Regions from separate parts of the Homo sapiens genome. Here region 2 is linked to region 1. The links come from fine-mapping of genetic effects on gene expression. A gene starts in region 1. The other region holds a variant in brackets. All regions are shown on one strand. Distances are between the middles of the regions.

The links. PIP is the estimated chance that this variant, and not a neighbour inherited with it, causes the effect.
Region 2: its variant is fine-mapped to the expression of XPC-AS1 in tibial nerve (GTEx, PIP 0.91).

Annotation. Positions count from the first base shown.
Region 1 is chr3:14,147,392-14,152,878 of GRCh38, forward strand. It overlaps XPC-AS1 (XPC antisense RNA 1), which reads left to right and starts at 2,171. Exons shown (of 2, transcript XR_001740603.2): 1 at 2,171-2,211; 2 at 2,451-5,487. It overlaps XPC (XPC complex subunit, DNA damage recognition and repair factor), which reads right to left. Exons shown (of 16, transcript NM_004628.5): 11 at 4,944-5,025; 12 at 1,423-1,557; 13 at 1,171-1,340; 14 at 517-610. RefSeq lists enhancers at 1,162-1,846, 3,464-3,964.
Region 2 is chr3:14,167,095-14,172,331 of GRCh38, forward strand. XPC (XPC complex subunit, DNA damage recognition and repair factor) reads right to left here. Exons shown (of 16, transcript NM_004628.5): 3 at 3,344-3,456; 4 at 1,163-1,286; 5 at 75-159. Among named protein-coding and RNA genes, the nearest start is that of XPC, 8.9 kb to the right of the region's middle. The variant A/G (reference allele first, on the strand shown) is at 2,507.

The DNA.
Region 1 (5,487 bases):
ATGAAGTGGGAGAAAAGTGTTAAGCACTGACATTTTCAGGAAAAATATTAAGATGGAAACTGTGAATGTAAAGACAGATATATACACCACTTTAGAATATAGCCTCTCCTTCACACCAAGTCTCACTTCCAAAAAATTGATCTGATTTACAAAGTGATATACTATACCTGAAAGCCACAAAAACAGATAACTTTTTAATCGTTACTGACTCCAAAATCTTTAGTGGGTGAGGTCTTCCAGAACCTGGACACAGGCAATTCAAGACAGAGGCAGGTGTGGGCAGCAGGGGCAGTAGACCCCAGAGCCCGGACCCAGGCTCCTCAGGGACAGTGATAGTCTGCGGGGTGGGCAGGAGCCTGCTGTATTCAGTGCTCGCTCCCTCGGGTGCCTGCCATGATGTCAGAGAGGGCTGGGAAGAGCCTGGGAGCACACGGAGGCGGCCTGGGGAAGGAAGAGGCCACCCGCTGAGTGTTGCTTCCCGCTTCTGCTGTCCCTCAGTCCTGCATATGCGCTTACCTCCTTCTCCTTCCTTTCAATGACTGCCTGCTCATTTTCCCAGGCAGTCAGGAGCACGTCTTTGAATTCCTCGCAGACGATGTATCCATCAGTCCTGTGGGGACACAACGCGATGTCAACCCTCGAACCTGCTGCCTGCTCTGCCTCTCCTCCCTCCCCAGTTTGTGGAAGACAGTGGGCCACATCTGAGCACTAGGGGTCCTGAAGGATGTCGCGGGTCAGCCAGTGTCCCACATCCTCCGTGCAGAAGGCAGGCCTGTGGAAGCTGGCACTGCCTCTTCCTCCCCAGATTCTGCCGAAGAAAGCTGGGGTGAAAGCCCCTATCCAGCCTCACCCATCATGGAACAGAGCTCACTAACCAGGCAGCTGCCGGGGAAAGATGCTGACTGTTTTTTGCTCACTAGCCTGTGAGTCCCTAAACCTGGGAAGAACGTTTTAATCCAGCATTACGATGCCAGTTTCATTGGCTCCGTTCCCTCTGGAGGGAAGCCAGAATTGGTAAAGCACTGACTTTGCAAATCCAGTGTAACATCCTGAAAATTGGAGCCACCAGGCCTCAACTCCCAGCAGCCCCATGCCAGCTTTCCATCCCCATCTCTGGAGCCACCCCTCCCCATCCCTGTGTTTAGCCTCCATCGAAGGCCCCTCACGCACACGGGATGGGAGTAGCCGCCATGGAAATCAAAGCCAGTGATGGCCTGGACACAGTCGATGTCCAGCTTGCGGGCCACGCGGTGTAGATTGGGCAGGTTCAGCTGGACACAGCCAATAGGCATCATGCTGGGCAGGAAGAGGTACACATTCCCAAACTCGTTCCGGGGCACCTGTGTCGGGTGAGCAAGTCAGCATTTGGCCAGCAGGGGAACAAGGCGGCCTGGTCCTGAGCCCTTCTGATGCTGCCCTTACCTTCCCGTCCACGGCCACTGGGGGCTGATACTCCTCTGTCTGCCAGTAGCCAAACAGGCCCAGGTCATTTTCTTCCCGCAGCTGGGGCTCAGCAAGTCGGGCTTTCCGAGCACGGTTAGAAAAGCCTTTCACCATCTGCACCAGAGGACACGGCCACCGTTTACAACAAAGGCATCCAGTTCCTCAGCACCGGGCCAGGCACCATGCTCAGTGCCGCATGCCTGGTACCTGGTGAACCCTCAGAACACACCTACCAGCTGGGGTGCTTTTTCTCCCTTTTTTTTTTTTGAGACAGAGTCTCGCTCTGTCGCCCAGGCTGGAGTACAGTGGTGCAATCTTGGCTCGCTGCAACCTCTGCCTCCTGGGTTTAAGCAATTCTCCTGCCTCAGCCTCCTGAGTAGCTGGGATTACAGGTGCCTGCCACCACGCCCGGCTAATTTTTGTATTTTTAGTAGAGACGGGGGTTTCACCATGTTGGCCAGGCTGGTCTCGAACTCCTGACCTCAGGTGATGCACTCGCCTCAACCTCCCAAAGGGCTGGGATTACAGGCGTGAGCCACCGTGCCCGGCTGCTCCCCTTTTCTTACTACAAGCACTAGCTAACATTTATGGAACATTCTCTGTCCCAGACACTATTCTCGGTGTTTTTTGTTTTTTTATCCCCCTGAGACGGAGTCTCACTCTGTTGCCCAGGCTGGAGTGCCCTGGTGTGATCTCAGCTCACTACAACCTCCACCTCCCGGATTCAAGTGATTCTCGTGCCTGTCTCCTGAGTAGCTGGGACTACAGGTACCCGCCACCATGCCCAGCTAATTTTTATATTTTTGGTAGAGATGGGGTGTCACCATATTGGCCTGGCTGGTCTCAAACTTCTGACCTCAAATGATCCACCTGCCTTGGCCTCCGAAAGTGCTGGAATTACAGGCATGAGCCACTGCGCCCAGCCTATCTTCAGTGCTTTATATGTTATTATTTAATTTTTTCAACAAACCCACAAGGTAGGTCTTATTATTGTTTCCATTTTACAGATGAACACCACAGACGGGGTAAATGATTTGCCTAAAGTCACACAGCTCGTAAGGGCCAGAGCCCACACTTTCATCCACTAGCCTATATTCTGTGCTGTCATCACTGATAGCAGTGACTGAGACTGAGAGACAAAGTCACTTAAGAGCTGATGGCTGGTAAGTGACAAGAACCAGGATTTACAATTCAGGTAACTGTCCATCAGTAGAGCCTGTGTCTCAACATATAACCTATGTCTGCTCACACGCCCTAGAAAGCACTGACAGTTCAGGACTCCCAGTGTGCTCCCCAACAGCGTGCAGTGGCCAAGGCCAAGATCTTCCCTGGGGAGTGAAGTGGTGAGAGGGGCGCAGGACAGGCAAGGACAGAGTCACGTAACTCTTAGAGGAGTCAGGCATGGGCGTGCGGCTGAGGGCTGGCCCCTGGGCCTCAGCATACAGACTTCCTCTAGTGCAGGGGCCCACAAGCTTGTTCTGTAAAGGGTCATGCGTGGCCTCCATCACATATTCTTTATTCTTCTCATTCTTATAACCCTTTAAAAATGTGAAAAGCCATTCCCCAGGTTGGGGGTGGCCTGCGAGCTCTCATGTCCATTCCTGCCATGATCTCTGGGCGCACCCTCTCTGTCACCACTTCAGGGACAGAGGGACTCTGAGTTCTGACAACCGTCCCTTTCTGAGAAGCCATTCACCCAGCACACTGTTCAGTAAACTTCCACTGGGATCTCCTGGAGACCAGGCCATGACCCAGTCATGAAGGAGGGATGGAGCGAGGACAGTCTTTGCTCTTAGGAGCTCAGGCTCCTGCAGGGGAAGAGACAGAGCTACGACTCAGCGTGATGAGTACAGGGTGGAACAGGAGCTCAGAGGCAAGCCATTGCCCAGCCCTGAGGACAGTGGAGGCAAGAAAGGCTGCTCAAAACAGGTCCCGCCTGAGCAGAGGCTTAAAGGGGCAAGGGGTTGCCCAAGAGAACAGGGCTGGACCCCACAGGGCACAGAGGTGGGAGAACACTGGGACCTGGGGCCTAAGTCCTCTGGAATGCAGAGGCAGTGAGCACCAGAACATCACTGTGCACCATGGGGAGGGTGCGGGACTCAGACTAAAGGCGCTGGCCAAGGTGGGACAAGGATGGCCAAGATGCACAGAAAGAGCCTAGTGACTGACAGGGGAATGGATTCAGGCTGGGAAGGAGGCTGTGGCTGTTGCCCAAGCAAAAGATACTGAGGCAGGAGCTGGGGTGGTGGGGATCAGAACAAGGGGTGAATTTGAGAGATTTGGGATTCCAGAACTGTGCTACCATGACAGCCACCAGTCACGTGTGGCCACTGCACACCTGAAACGTGGCTGGTCTGAACTAAGGTACAGAAAGTCAAATACACAGAAGATTAGAGAGACTTAGGAACAAAATGGATTTAAATATCTCATCAACACTTTAAAATATTTCTTACTGCTGAAATAGTATTTTAGATATATCTGGATATATTTTAATGTTAAAATTCCACCTGTTTTTGGTTTTTAATGTAGCTACTAAAAAATTTAAATGTGTGGCTCACGTTACATTTCAACTGAACACTGCTATGCTGGTTCCAGCACAAAAGACAGGTGAGATGGTGCAGAGAAAATCCTCAGCAACCCTGCAGGCCCAGGCAGGGGGCATCGCCCACTCCAGCCTGCTGCTGGCAGTGACTGTGACCAGCGCCTGCAGCCTTTCCCACTAAGCGGAGGCCCCTCCACTCCCCACTCAGCTTCCCGGAGTCTTGCAACCCCCAAGGACTCCTGGGGTCTGATGAGAAGTAAATGGTCTCTGTGATCAGCCACTGTACACTTCCGGTCGTACGGAGCTGTGTGTCCTGTGAATAGTCTCTGTGGGACCTCGCTCGGTTCGTGTTCCTCAAGAGCAACCAGCCTAACAGTGCCGCAGCACAGTGTGAAAGGAGCACTGGCTTTAAGGCAGAGCCTGGGATTCTCACCTGGGCTCTGCTCTGCCATTTTACTAACTGTGGGGACTTGGACAAGTCACTTGCCCTGAGCTTCAGTTTTCTCATCTGTAAAATGGGCATCATAATGCCAATTCCTATGGCTTTTGAGGCAACAGAGATCACATACATGCAAAATGCTCAGTGAACTGCCAAACAGAAGGGCAATCTGACTGGAGAACGTGCTGCTATAAAGCAGGGCTCTGACCTCCCAGGACCCAGTAACTCAATTCCAACCTGTAGAACCTTTGAATTCACAACAGGAGTCTGAGGCCTACTTTTTGGCCTAGATTTCTTTTGTGTTTTGGAAGATCCATTTCTTACAAATGTCTTATTAATAAGACAATTTAAATGTTTCTCTCCTCCTTGAATCCTGCTCAAGCCGGGAAAGTGAGACATTTCTGATCAGGATCCTGGGCAGGACTGGGAGGCTCATCATCACTTCTCTGCCCCCAGCTCTCCCGCTCAGCTACAGGCCTGTGTCACCACTCCCCACAGGGACCCCCCAGCTCCAGTTACCTTGTAGGGTACTTCTCCAAGCCTCACCACTCTTGCTTTCTTCAGCCACGTGTCCCTGGAATGCAGAGTGTGCACACAATCCCTGTGGAACCAACACAGGACACAAAGGTAACTCAGTCCACAGCCCCACTGCGGGAATGCGGGACAGTGGAGAGCGCAGCCCTGCAGGCTCCCTCCTCAGGTTCAGCCACCCTGGAGCAGGCCGAGCTCCTAGGGGGCCCAGAGAAGCTGTGCTAGGCAAACAGCCTTGAACGTGGACTGCCTGTCTTTTGGGGGATGTGTCCACTTACAAACCCTAATCTGCAGCCTTTGTGCCTTGCCTCCACCACTCCTCCCCTTCATAGGTTTTCTTCTCCTCTGCTGTCCAGAGCCTGTGAGAGCTCCAGCTGCAGACTATCAGGATGGGGTAAAGGCCGCTGTGCGCAGGCACACTCACGTTTACTACCACCACCAAGCGAACACCTGCTGAGGCTCTGATCTGCTGTTAACACCATGTGGGGGAGGGAAGTGTCCAGGAGGGGGCAGTGAACCCAAAGGAAGGCTG
Region 2 (5,237 bases), 20 kb after region 1:
AAATAAAGCCTCGGTGAGCACAAGCTCTTTGCACCGACAAGGAAAAGTCCTTCCCCATCATTCCTTGCCCTTACCTTGTGTGTGTCCTCATGGACCCCTTTATTGAAACGTTTCATCGCCCTCCGAAGATATGTCTCAAACTCCAGTTTTATCTTTTCACTGCAACAAATAGTGAAAAATCTGGGAATGAAGGGGGGAACTGAAACCAGACTCCACTCCCCCAGGCAATTCCTTCTCCTCGGATGACAGTGAATCACTCTCCCTGTTTCCCTACACAAGGCTGTGCTACTCAAGTCCGTCTGCAAGCCAGCTATTTCCTGCAGGCTCTTTGGCTCCTTCTCACCAGCAAACCTCGGCCTGGGACATTCTGTACCCAGACAACCCTCCTCTCAACCAGCAGCAGATCACACCTCACCTACATGCCTCAAAGCTCACTTCTTCCAGGAAGTCTTCTCTGGCTGTCCAACTCTTCCGACTACTGACTCTCTCCTTAGCAACCATTACCTTTATTAATGTTAAATTAACACACCATCATTTATGTGACACTGTTCTAGTGTAAAATCTCTTTTTCAGTCTGTATCCCATTAATCTTCAAGACAACTTGACACTTCTTGAATGATTTGTATTATCTCCCTCTTCTGTGCCTAGTAATGTGCCCATCGCACATTGGAATTCCCAAGCCATCAGAGGCTGCAGAGGTACTCCGGGATGCTGGGAAGGATAGGGGCTCCCTACCACGGCGGGCACTGCCTCAAGTCCTGCAGCATGACATGGTGAGGAAAATGTGAATGCCAAGTCAATGAGAAGGATTAGGTCTCAGCTCTTCCATTACTGGCTGAGTGACTCTTGAAACGTTACTTAGCGTCTGAACGTTACTTAGCTCCTCATTCACAACACTGTTCTAAGGATTAGGTAAGATAACGGATGACCTGCTCAATCCTTGGCACACAGGAGTTCCCTCTCCTCATCCCTCACCAGCCCCAGCCAGGACACGAAGGTGTCTCATTCAAGTCTCTAAAGGTAAATCAGGTTCCTGACCCAAGGTTCTCGACCACTTTGATACTCAGTCCTGGTCCCCTACAAGTTTCTCCAAAGTCCTCCTAAGCAGCAGCTGTTGCCTACTGCATGTGACAGGAGCCTAGAAGCAAGGGCCTAAGCTTACCTTCTTTCTCTTGTCTTCGCCTGCTCTGGCGTTTCAATCTCTATCTCCACTGGCTTCACAGGCAGAAGAGATCGAGAGAAGGCTGTACTTTCTCTCACGTCACCCAGCACAGGCTCACTAAGTTCTATCAACAAGCATTTTTAAAAATCAGTAATAGTAATAACAATAATAATAGCTACTGTACTGAACAGAATCAAGGTTCTGCTGGGAAGGAGGAAGTGAGGCATGAATGTGAGGGAGACAGCCCACAGAGACCCCTAGACATGCCTTGCCCTGAGTCCTACCATGTGCCGGGCAGTGTGCTGAGTGTTATATATTCGTGTGTCTCATTTAACCCACACAACCCAGACAGTCTTTAGATAAAGAACCTAAAGCATAGAGATACTGGGTTGAATCAGATACAGACCCCTCTATCAAAAAGCTGACACTCATGCATGTATGTATATACTTAAAACTCTTTAAAAAAAAAAAACCCAAGTGAGAATAATCTCCTTTTCTCTGTATTCTGTATTACCACAATAACAATTAGCACAATTTGCTTTGTATAGAGTCATGACTCAGGTGTCCATCTTTCATTCTCAATTATAAACTTGTAAGTGACAAAAAATATATCCTTTTCATCTCTTCACCCCCTACGTTGCTTGTATACAGTAGCTGAGAAGGACTGAACTTGCTGAACTGGATCTAATTGAAAACTTCATTAGCAAAAGTTCCTTAAAAGAGGCTCTGGGCCTAGAAGCCATGACATCTTACTGGCAAAGAATGCATCTAATGCCAGATCTTGGTCTCTATACATGAATCTCTATTAAAATGAACCACAGCTTCTTGAAGAAAAAAAGGCTGGTTTCAAGTCTACAGCAAGAAAAGTATAAGCTGAACAAAAATGTTCTCAAAGACTAATGAGGCCATGTCAAAAGGACATGGTAGTACAGCTAGCTTAAAGGTAGCATGACTAGAAGAGGAACAACCTGACATTAGAGGTGGCTTAATCAATGCAAGATGAGGTTTAAAGCATCATCTAGGAAGGATTCTTGGAAAAAAAATAAAAGTTTAATCAAAATTACATGTCTTTGGACTTAGTTTACAAGAAATACAGGGGATATTGAAACAAGTTTAACACCACCATGAGATGTGTGACTGTTTATCAGACAAAACTAGAACATGAGACAGTCTACAAAACAAAAGACTAGGATCCTTCAAAAAAGGCAGTGCTATGAAAAGCAAAACAAGGCGGTAGGTGGGAAATACTGCTCTATATTAAGAGAGTAAAGTGACATAAAGACCAAATACAAGGCTTGGTTGGATCTTGGTATGGAAAAAGAAACAGGCATAAAGGATGCTTTC[A/G]TAACAATTGGGGACTTATTTTTCATTTTCGTAGGTGTGATGAGGTCATTTTGTCATGCAGGAGAATGTCTAATTATTAGGAAATGCAGGCTGAAGTATTCAGCAGTGGAGTATCAGAATATCTACAACTTATTTTCAAATGGTTCCACAATGAATATTTACAGAGAGAAACATACATTCAATGTGGCAAAATGTTAATGAACCTAGGTGAAGGACATATATTACATTTTTCACTCTTTTTATAAATTTGAACACTTTCAAAATAAAAAGGTGAGGAAAAGTCAGGCCAGACAGAAGGAATCAGGGATGATAACATTAGCTGGTATTTACTGTGAGTGTATGATACATTAGGCCCATTACATTTGCAAACTTTCTTTTCCCCACAATAATCCTACAGCCTATACTGTGAATGGCTCACACTAAACATTCAGTGTTTACAGAGTGTTACCAATGAGAAAACTCAGTTCAGAGAGGTGAAGTTACTTGCTCAAGATTAAATTACTCACTCACACTGCCACCTAAGTGGCAAAGTTGAGCACTGAACCCAATTCTAACTACTTTCAAAGCCTGTGCTCCTTCTCCTAAATAGTGCTGCCTCTCTATTTATATCTACCCCATTGACAGTCACCAGAGGAAGAGAGTAAACAGCCTTCTTTGGTAACTTGGCCATGAGTTTTTCCATATATATCAAAGCAAGTCCCTAGTACAACCTTATCTGTGGTCTAATTAGCTCAAAAGAAAACAAAAGGATTGCAATTAGTGATCTGACTCCAAACAGAATCAAACAAAAAAACAAACAGAACCAAACAGTTCTGAAAACAAAGAAAGATGTTTCACCTTCAACCTCTTCCCAATCATTTTCACTTTCTTCCTCTTCTTCATTGCTGTCTTCATTCATGGTAGCCCCTCTCTTCAGATGGTGTGCCTTCTTGAGGTCACTTGGAAAGTCCCTGTGTAAAGACCACAGGAAGGAAGATGAAGAAGACTCAGACATCCTAGTGTTCCATTCAAGCTAAATGGAATTTTTAAAACCCCTCCTATTTATTGAGAATCTGTTGCAACTATTTAAAGATGATTAGTAAGCTCTGAGCCTCACTTCCTCCATCAACATGTGTTCCAAATCTCATCAAGATGTGCTCTGATCATCTGTCTAATTACTACCAGATGTGCTGTTAAAAAACCTACAATCTAGATCGTGTGAAAGAAAACATAGCTGTGCCTGGACATGACAAGGAAAAATTAGAAGACACCAAAATAATAATGAGTTCCAGAACTGTGATATCTGTGTGATATATGTGCAGTTGGAGGCCAGAAAGAACAGAATAAAATCTCCATTTATATATCCTACTATAAGCCTACTCAGACTTCTTTTCCATCTTTAAGAAATATGATGTAAGGAGACTGAAATTCATAGCATTCTAACTTCAAGCAGGGATGTAACTACACATAGGTGAGTCATAAATAACAAGAGACATAGACAGCTAGCTAGCTAAGTAGATAATAACATAGATAAGTAGCTGGCTAAACAATGGCTCAAGGCTAAGTACTTGCTGATACGTAATATATTTCTGCAAATTCATATATAAAATGTGTCTAGAGTATCCAGTTACTTTTAACTTGTGTAAACTTTGGCACTTGGTACCAAGTGAGAATATTATCTAGGATTTTGGTATAAACATTTAAAATAACCAATCATCAATCTTGAGCTCTAATAATACACTCTTTTTTTAGAGTACCACTTTCTCTCAAAACACCAGCAATAAAAATTTCCCCTTAGAATGAACATAGCAGAAATGACCACAGTCAATGCTCAGGGGAGAGGGAAAGGGGGACCCAGAGCTTTCCTTGGCAGTATCGTGGCCTATCTCTATGTATATGTCTCTGGAGATAGAATTCAACTAGTGAGGGGAGGCAACTGGAAAGCAGTAAGTTCAGAGGTATTCTTCAGAAAAGTCTAGGGAAGGCCAGGCGCAATGGCTCACGCCTGTAAGCCCAGCACTTTGGGAGGCTGAGCAGGGCAGATCACCTGAGGTCAGGAGTTCGACACCAACATGGTGGAACCCTGTTTCTACTAAAAATACAAAAATTAGCTGGGCGTGGTGGTGGGCACCTACAGTCCCAGCTACTCAGGAGGCTCACTTGAACCTGGGAGGCGGAGGTTGCAGTGAGCCAAGATTGCATCACTAGACTCCAGCCTGGGCAACAGAGCGAGACTCCATTAAGGACGGGACCGGGATGGGGACGGGACGGGGCGGGACGGGAAGGGAAGTCTAGAGAAAAGGAGAAGAGATGGATCATGGCGGAAAATCATCATGCTGTCCCGTGTCCCTTCCTGTGCCCTCTACTGGACTACTCTCCCATCCCAGGACTAGAGGCTGCTGGAAAAGCTGATACTGGCAGTGAGGATTTGTTTATGAAGCAAATGAAAAACTATCCCTCTGTTCTTCCTCTTCTCCCCACCCCTCAACTTTCTTAGGAGGCAGAAAATCAAGTGTTCCCTGGGCTCATAATCACTGTTCACAACATATTAATATAAATGCTCATTCATTGCAAAAATACTTGTTCAGTTTCTGCCAAATAAAAGGGCCTGCAATGGATGCTACAGGGCATATGAAAAGGAACCCCACATGGTTCCAGCCCTCTGAGAGGTCACAGGGTAGTAAGCCTGGGTATGTGGCATGGTAACAATAACTGGCAGACATATCACACTCCCTAGAAGCGCTACAGGAAG